Linked DNA regions of Homo sapiens: regions 2 and 3 are each linked to region 1. The links come from fine-mapping of genetic effects on gene expression. A gene starts in region 1. Each other region holds a variant in brackets. All regions are shown on one strand. Distances are between the middles of the regions.

Region 1 (2,766 bases):
CGGAAGAAATTTGAGAGATTCATCTCAGATTTAAAAGATCTTTGATATGGGGAATAAGTTATTTCTAAAATAAGTTTAAGTATTTTGTTTCTCTTGAGGCTTGAGGTTGATGGGGTGGGAAGGAGGTGGGAAGAGAGAAGTAAATTGTTTCGGTCAGCAGACAAGGACTGGACTTGACATTGGTTCTAGAGACTAGAGTGTATCCCAAGTGCATAAATTATACCCCAAATTAAATGGATATTGTTTCTTATAAGAGAATTAGTGGCACAAAGTAAAAAGAAAGTAAAAGGGAGAGAGAGAGAGACAGAGAGAGAGAGAAATATATATCGCAAGCAGAGATGCTATTATATTGTGGCATAAAGTCCTCTCCTTCCTGATCCTGCCTGTTTGTACCCTCACCCATCCTCAAATCCCAAACCATCTTAAAGGTTTTAATTTGTGGCTTTTCAAAGTACTCTAAAGTACTAATTTCAAACACTAGAATTTTTTAATTAAAGGATTTTTCTAAATAGACATGCAAAGGAATTTAATTTTTCTGGATGCTTTGTCTCTAAACAATGCTTCCACGCACTCAGAATTCCCGTCAATTCACCCATATGAGACGAGTAAGTCTCGTGCCTTATCTACCTGTTTCCTAGCAAAATTACTGATGCTGTCATAAAAGTGGTAGTTTCTATTATTACCTATGTATTCCAGGCAAAAGTCATAGAGTTTTTTTTTAAACAAATAATCCTAACAATCCTTTAATTAAACATCTCAGTTAAGTGACAAGACCAGAAGCTCAGTGACTTAAGAAACTTGTTATTAAAACCTTATGAAAAACTGGTTTGCCTTCTCCCCTTCATAATGACTACAGTTTACCATTGTAGGTAACTTTTCCCTTCTCTCCCTCCCCTTCCCCACTCCACCCCCTTCACCCCACCAACTCATCCTCCCCTTTCTGGAAAGTTTCTATTATAGAAGTGCAAAGGTTCTTAGAGCTCTAAAGTTATTTAAATATAAACAAGATCAGCAGATGGAAACTGAGTCAACACTTAAGACAAATACTTCCTCATATATTATGCCATCTACTGCGTTTTGTCATTTAAAGGATGATACTCACTTTTATCTTAAAGAGGAAAAGTACTTTAAGACCAGCAAATCTAACTCTGAGCAGAGTTAATTCTGGTACAGCCTCTCTGAAACACACTGTTTCTCATAAACGGCTTCAGTTTCAGGAAGTAGGAATTAAAAAAAAAAAAACAACCAATCCTGTGACTGTCTCAGAATATGGTTGTGTAATTCAATTCCGGGACTTTCAGCAATCTTGCACCATAAGACACACCCCTTTAGGAATTGCTTCGGTGAAAGGTATTCTGGGAGCTGTATTACTACAGAAAAGTTCCTTCTCCTAATGAAAGTGCAAGAAAAACTTATTATTTAGACTAAGAATGGAGAGTCCTCTTAGAGCCAAGAAGAGAGAATGTCAGTAAGAAACAATGAATATGACATTGTTGAAATCTGTTAGCAAAAGACAGATGCACATTAAGGCTTCATTCTGTGCTCTGTCTTAGAAGTGAGCTTGTTATCACAGAGACACATATATTGCTGAACTGGAAAATAAAGTTAGGACTTTTTGGATAGAATATCTGATTAGGCTGACTAGTTTGACAGTGAAAAGTGTCTTATTGAGTTACACAGTGGACATTGTCCTTCCATGGAACAACTGAAATCTGCAACTCGAAATTTTGACAAAAAAATCAAAAGTACCTAAGATTTCTAAATGTCAAAATATATTTTATTGGAAAAGTTATTGACATAAACAATATTTTAATTTTCTCAATCCTTTTTGAGCCTGCTGGGTTAAAGAAGTTTCCTCTAGAGTGAAGGAATAATAGGTTTTATTAATAGTCATTTGATACATTTTGGTAAAGCCTTTGGTATACTTCCTAGAAACTGAGAGAGTGAAGGACTCCAAAAGCTGGGTCATAAATGCTTTGGCAAGTCAATTGTTTACAACAAAATAGGAGGAAATAGTTGAATAGTCAGTTGCTCGATCACTTAAAACACATTTTTTTTGTGTGATAGATCGCTATGTAATGTTTAATATATGACCTTAGAAGTTTAAATAACCAAATGGCATTGCTATAACAAAATTCTATCTCTATTTATTTATGTAAACACAGTTCCTCTCCTCTTCCATGTGTATATTTTTGTGGAATGTTGTTTTATTCCAACTATAAGTAACATTCAGCTGTGAATTAATTTTTTAAAACTCCAGAAATCTTATGGAGAAGTGACACTTGAATAAATTTTATCACTTAATATTCATCAAAACGTACCATTTTATTTTTGTCTTCTTCATCAATTATGAATCAATACTTGTACAATTCAATCTTTAAGAAAGTTTAATACTTAGAGTCTATGGTCACAGAAAACAGAAATGTTTAATTTCTTTTTTCTTTTCTATTTTTTTTTTTTTTTTTGAGATGGAGTTTCGCTCTTGTTGCCCAGGCTGGGGTGCAGTGGCACAATCTCGGCTCGCTGCAGCCTCTGCCTCCTGGGTTCAAACGATTCTCCTGCCTCAGCCTTCCGAGTAGCTGGGATTACAGGTGCCTGCCAGCACGCCCAGCTAATTTTTTGTATTTTTAGTAGAGGTGGGGCTTCACCATGTTGGCCAGGCTGGTCTCGAACTCCTGACCTCAGGTCTGTCTGCCTCGGCCTCCCAAAGCACTGGGATTACAGGTGTGAGCCACCACACCCAGCCAGAAAGGTTTAATTTCAATA
Region 2 (2,766 bases), 130 kb before region 1:
ACTGAGTTATCTGCCTTGACAGTGATTGTTCATTAGATAGCATACTCTGTAAGGAAGCAGGCCAATAGTAGGTTCCTTGTCTTTGTTGTTTTTTTTTTTAACTTAGAGAAAACAGAGACACAGAGATGTAAGCTGCTTGATCAAAGCTTCTTCATTCATCAGTGGCAGAGCCAGCCCCAGATAGCTCTGGAAACATCTAAGGTATAGTAACTATTAAGTCACTAAGTTGTTATTAAATGAGTGCTCTGTTCGGGGCTGAGGTAAAAGTCATTGTGAAGATATGAAAGTACTCACCCGTTGCTCCATTGTTGCTTATTAGACTGCTCAGAATATACTCTGCTTTTAAAAGTTTTCCTGAAAAGCAGCAACCAAATGCCACACAATTAGCTTTGAACATGCACTTAACAATTACAAGTTGTTCATGTTCTAAGACTGATATATTGCAGCAGGAACTGTAACCTCCTTTGGAAGCATTCCATTTTATAATTTAAAATCAACAATGACATCATCTATAAAACTGAAAAGAAAGATGAAGTTTTCCTAAGTTGGTAAGGTGGGAAGTTGGACAGTATCTGAAATGAAAATTAGATTCATATGTATGTGATAATTCATTCACATAGAGCAGGGTTTGAGGAGTAGAGGCAAACTTTTCTAACAGGCTGTGCCGCCTCCCTGTGAAAACTATACTTCAGGAAGTGGAATAGAGTTGCCCGTGGACAGGAACTAGTTATGGAATTATCTGGCAGGAATTTGGGGGTGGGGAGTGAGGAGATTCTTTCTCAAGTTTTTACTTATTTTTGTTACTACCACATAGGAAGGGCCTATTCTATGGACACCTGTTGGAAACACAATTATTTATCCTTTTAACCAAACATTCCTTTCTCTAGGTTCCTCTAAGCCCTACATGATCTGGCTTTCATGACTTCTTTGACCTCACCTCTAACTACTTATTCCTTCCTTCTTGGCCCTCTACTTCAGTCACAGTGGCCTCCTTATCATCCCTTGGGTAGACCAGGCTCATTACCACATCAGAGTTTTTGTATTTACAATTATTTCAGTGTGTAACGCTTTCATCCCAAATATCTGCAAGGCTTCCTCTCTTCTTCTTCAGGTCTTTGCTCAAATGTCACTGTCTCTGAAGGCCTCCCCTGACCATCTTATTTTAAATTACATACGTAGACATACACTCTGGCTGTGGTAGGTTGTATTTCCAAAAAAGACCACACCAGTATATTCCATTCTTCACGCTCGTTTGCAATGATGACCTGGCCATTTTTCCATCAAAAAGTGGAATCTAGAGTTTATTTCCCTTCACCTTGAACACAACTGGCCCTGTGACCTGTTTTGACAAATGGAATGTGGCAGAAGTCTGGGCGTTAAGGGATCTTTAAATTCTGCCTTCCCTTCTTGGAACTTAGCCCAATGCTCTGAGGAAGCTGAGGCCGCCACATGGAGAGGCCCATGCAGAGGACAGCTGAGGCCCTCCCCCAAGGCCTCTGCTTGGCTCTTAGCTGGCAGCCAGTACCAAATGCCTACTGTGTGGATGAAACCATTCCAGACCTTCTAGCTATCCCAGCTTCCAGCTGACAGTACTTATAATAATCACCCAAACTACAAATTATGAGACTGAATGAATTATTACTGTTTTAAGCCACTATGTCATGGAGTGGCTTTTAACA[T/A]AGCAATGGAAAAATCATGCACTTAAAAGTGGAGTACTACTATAACAAAAACTTTGGAGACTTGAAGGGTGTTGCAGAGACAAAAGGCAGTGAAGAAATTGTTCCTGGAAGTTTGAGAAAGGGAACAGACATTATACGGTGTTGTAAAGTTTGGCAACATGGTCTCCAGGAGTAATGTGGAATGTAGCAAAATGTAACCAGTGGACTCGGTGTCTAGCTAGGGAGATACCCAGGAAGGATATTGAAAGTGCCAAAATGTGTATCTTTTAGTTACCCAAGATAAAGTACAGGAAGAAAGCAATAACCTAAAGAAGAAACTACAGTAGTCCCCTCTGTCCCCAGTTTCCCTTTCTGCAGTTTCAGTTACCAGCAGTCAACCACAGTCCAAAAATATTAAATGGAAAATTCCAGGAATAAACAATTCATAAGTTTTAAATTGCGTGCCGTTCTGAGTAGCGTGATGAAATCTCATCCTGCCTGGGACATGAACCATTCCTTTGTCCAGCGGATCCATGCTATCTACGATGATCACCCATTAGTCACTTAGCAGACCTCTCCATGATCAGATCAACTGTCTGTCAGGTAATGCAGTGCTTGTGTTCAAGTCACCCGTATTTTACTTAACAATGGCCGCAAAGGACAGGAGTAGTGATGCTGGCAATTTGGATGTGCCAAAGAGAAGCTGTAAAGTGCTTCCTTTAAGTGAGAAGGTGAAAATTCTCAACTTAATAAAGAAGGAAAAAATTCATATGCCAAAGTTGCTAAGGTCTATGGTAAGGATGCATCCTCTATCCAAAAATGGTGAAGAAGGAAAAAGAGATTTGTGCTAGTTTTGCTGTCACATCTCCAACTGTGAAAGTATGGCTACCGTGCGTGATAGATGCTTAGTTAAGATGGAAAAGGCATTAAATCGGTGGGTAGAAGACATAAACAGAAATGTGTCTTGATTAATGGCAATCAGGCTTGGGCATCTACTGGGGTCTTGGAACGTATCCCCCATGAATAAGGGGGGACTACTGTATTCCATTTTTAAGCAAGATTTAGGGAAAATAAAGACGGCCCAGAATAGTTTTTCCAGACAGCAAGA
Region 3 (2,766 bases), 150 kb before region 1:
TGTCATTTTATCACTGATTCATTATCCCACTTTTAGTGATCAGATTGACTGAAGTGTGAGTAGCATCAGCCTGATTTCTCCATTATAAAGTTCTCCATCTAATTTTCCCCAGCCATCAATGCTTTCTGCCCAGATCCATTATTTCATTAATGGATGCAAAATCATGATTTTCTAGTTTAGTCTTTCTATGTTTATTAGTTGGACTTCTTCTATGATGTTGAATAGAAGTGGGATAGTAGGCAAATTTGTCTTGTTCCTTTTCTCAACTTAAAAGTTTTAATTGCTTCACTATTAATTATGGTATTGCTGTTTTAAGTTTAAAATAAAAAAACCTTTGCCAGATTTAGAAACCTTTTCTTTATTCTTAGTTTTCAAAGAGCTTGTTTTTTTTCTTTTACCATGAGTTGATTTGGAATTTTATGAAATAATTTTCTACATCTTGTGAAATTACATGATTTCCTCCCTTTACTTTGTTAATAGGATAGATTACATTTTTTTTTCATTTCCTTAATAAGCATGTATTAGCTTTGGTTTTCCAAGAAGCAGATACCAGGAAAGGATTAGACATGAAAGACCTCTATTGGGAGAAATGATTGTAAAGGATCAGTTGGAGGGAACAAGAGTAGGCAGGGGACCATGCTGTGGGCCTGATGCCTATAAAAGGAGAGAGCAAAGAAAAGAGTTTTTTTGTTTGTTTGCTTTTGTTTTTTGAGATGGAGTCTTGCTCTGTCGCCCAGGCTGGAGTGTAGTGGTGCCATCTCAGCTCACTGCAACCTCTGCCTCCTGAAAAATTAGCCATGACCAGCTTTTTTTTTTTTTTTTTTTGTATTTTTGGTAGAGATGGGGTTTCACCATGTTGGCCAAGCTGGTCTTGAACTCTTGGCCTCAGGTGATCCATCTGCCTCGGCCTACCAAAGTGCTGGAATTACAGGCCTGAGCCACCACGCCCGGCCTTAAGAAAGTTTTGGTTAGGCCAGTGCTAAGACTTTGTTCCACAGTCACAGTCAGCAGTTAGAAATATTCTGAGACTAGTGTCCTTGTCATGCTTAGTCACTGGCTGACAGCACATTGAGGGCAACATGGCTTCAGCATAAACACAGTGATGGATTCAGGGGAGTGAAAGCTGGGAGTGTCAATCAACTGTGATCCCCACAGCAGGAGATTGGAATGGGTCTTCCTTGCCTCAACTGCAACTGTGAAGAGACATGTGCAGCAACCTCAAATTGAGAAGAGTATAAACTATCAAATGTTTGGACTTGATACATGAAGATCATGTATGTAAGTTTGAGTCTCACCAACCAGGTAAGCCACCCAGACTTCCTGAGTTAATAGTTAAGGCTGAGGGAAACTTAGAATGAACAGTGGAGGATAGGGAGAGTGAGCACCAGTTGCAGCCCCAAGAATAACTGCAGAAAAGAATTGGTTTATCTCACTAGTCGCCCTTTTGTTTCTTTCAGTAAGATCATGGAGGAGCTGTTTCCTAAACCTGTGTGAAGAAGTAGATCTGTGTAGGGTAAGGGATGGACTGTGGTAGCCAGGAAAATGTATCATTCTTCTTCTTCTTTTTTTTTTTTGCAAGACTATTCTTTTTTT[TA/A]AAAAAAAAAAGCTTTATTGAGGTATAACTTACCTACCATAAAATTCACCCTTTGAGTGTCTAGTCCAATGGTTTTGGTATATTCATAGAGTTCACAATATTCAATGATTTTTTTTTTTTACTTTTATTTTAAGTTCAGGGGTACATGTGCAGGTTTGTGTCATGGGGGTTTGTTGTGCGAATTACTTCATCACCCAGGTATTCAGCCTAGTACCCATTAGTTATTTTTCCTGATCCTCTCCCTCCTCCCACTGTCCACCCTCTGATAAGCCCTGGTGTGTGTTGTTCCCTCTATGTGTCCACCTACTCTCATCACTTAGCTCTCACCTATAAGTGAGAACAAGTGGTATTTAGTTTTCTGTTCTTGCATTAGTTTGCTAAAAATAATGGCCTCCAGCTCTATCCATGTCCCTGCAAAGGACATGATCTCATTCTTTTTTATGGTTACATTGTGATATGGTTTGGCTTTGTGTCCCCACCCAAATCTCATCTCGAATTGTAGTCCCATAATTCCCATGTGTCATGGGAAGGACCTGGTAGGAGGTAATTGAGGCAGTTTTTCCCATGCTGTTCTCGTGAGAGTGAATGAATTCTCACAAGATCTGATGGCTTTATAAGCATCTGGCATTTCCCCTGCTGGCACTCATTCTCTCTCCTGCTACCCTATGAAGAGGTGCCTTCTGCCATGATTGTAAGTTTCCTGAGGTCTCCCCAGCCATGTGGAACTGTGAGTTAATTAAACCTCTTTTCTTTCTAAATTACCCAGTCTCAGGTATCTCTTCATAGCAGTGTGAGAGTGGATTAATACACATAGTGTTCCATGGTGTATATGTACCACATTTTCTTTATCCAGTCTACCTAAATGCCCATCAAGGACAGACTGGATAAAGAAAACTGTACCACTCTTCCATCTTACTTTTTACAGATTTAATTATACTAGAAGGAAATACAGGAGAATTAAAAAGAAAGAAACTCAGAGTATAAGGAGGATCTAAGTATTATACATAACCAAAAAGCCATACAAAATAAAAGATTGATGAATTCAACTACATATAAAATTATGCACAGATAAACTTTTATGCAAAGTCAAATGTCAAAAGACAGGAAAACAAATTGAATTCGTATCACAAAGGCTCACATTTTTTTAATATGTAAAGAACTCCCAAATCAAT

Which allele goes with the higher level. Positions count from the first base shown, and alleles are read on the strand shown. Sizes are in standard deviations (SD) of each study's normalised expression. Not every link is listed here.
In carriers of allele T in region 2, the expression in visceral fat of the gene that starts at base 1,203 in region 1 tends to be higher than with A alone (moderate effect, 0.45 SD a copy in GTEx).

The links. PIP is the estimated chance that this variant, and not a neighbour inherited with it, causes the effect.
Region 2: its variant is the best candidate, but not a certain one, in a credible set for the expression of ALPK1 in visceral fat (GTEx, PIP 0.75).
Region 3: its variant is the best candidate, but not a certain one, in a credible set for the expression of ALPK1 in whole blood (INTERVAL, PIP 0.84).

The regions. Positions count from the first base shown.
Region 1 is chr4:112,295,806-112,298,571 of GRCh38, reverse strand. It overlaps ALPK1 (alpha kinase 1), which reads right to left and starts at 1,203. Exons shown (of 16, transcript NM_025144.4): 1 at 1,103-1,203. RefSeq lists an enhancer at 1,145-1,439.
Region 2 is chr4:112,421,532-112,424,297 of GRCh38, reverse strand. ALPK1 (alpha kinase 1) reads right to left here. Exons shown (of 16, transcript NM_025144.4): 6 at 295-354. Among named protein-coding and RNA genes, the nearest start is that of NEUROG2-AS1, 92 kb to the left of the region's middle. The variant T/A (reference allele first, on the strand shown) is at 1,680.
Region 3 is chr4:112,441,555-112,444,320 of GRCh38, reverse strand. It overlaps ALPK1 (alpha kinase 1), which reads right to left. Exons shown (of 16, transcript NM_025144.4): 16 at 1,700-2,766. Among named protein-coding and RNA genes, the nearest start is that of NEUROG2-AS1, 72 kb to the left of the region's middle. The variant TA/A (reference allele first, on the strand shown) is at 1,594.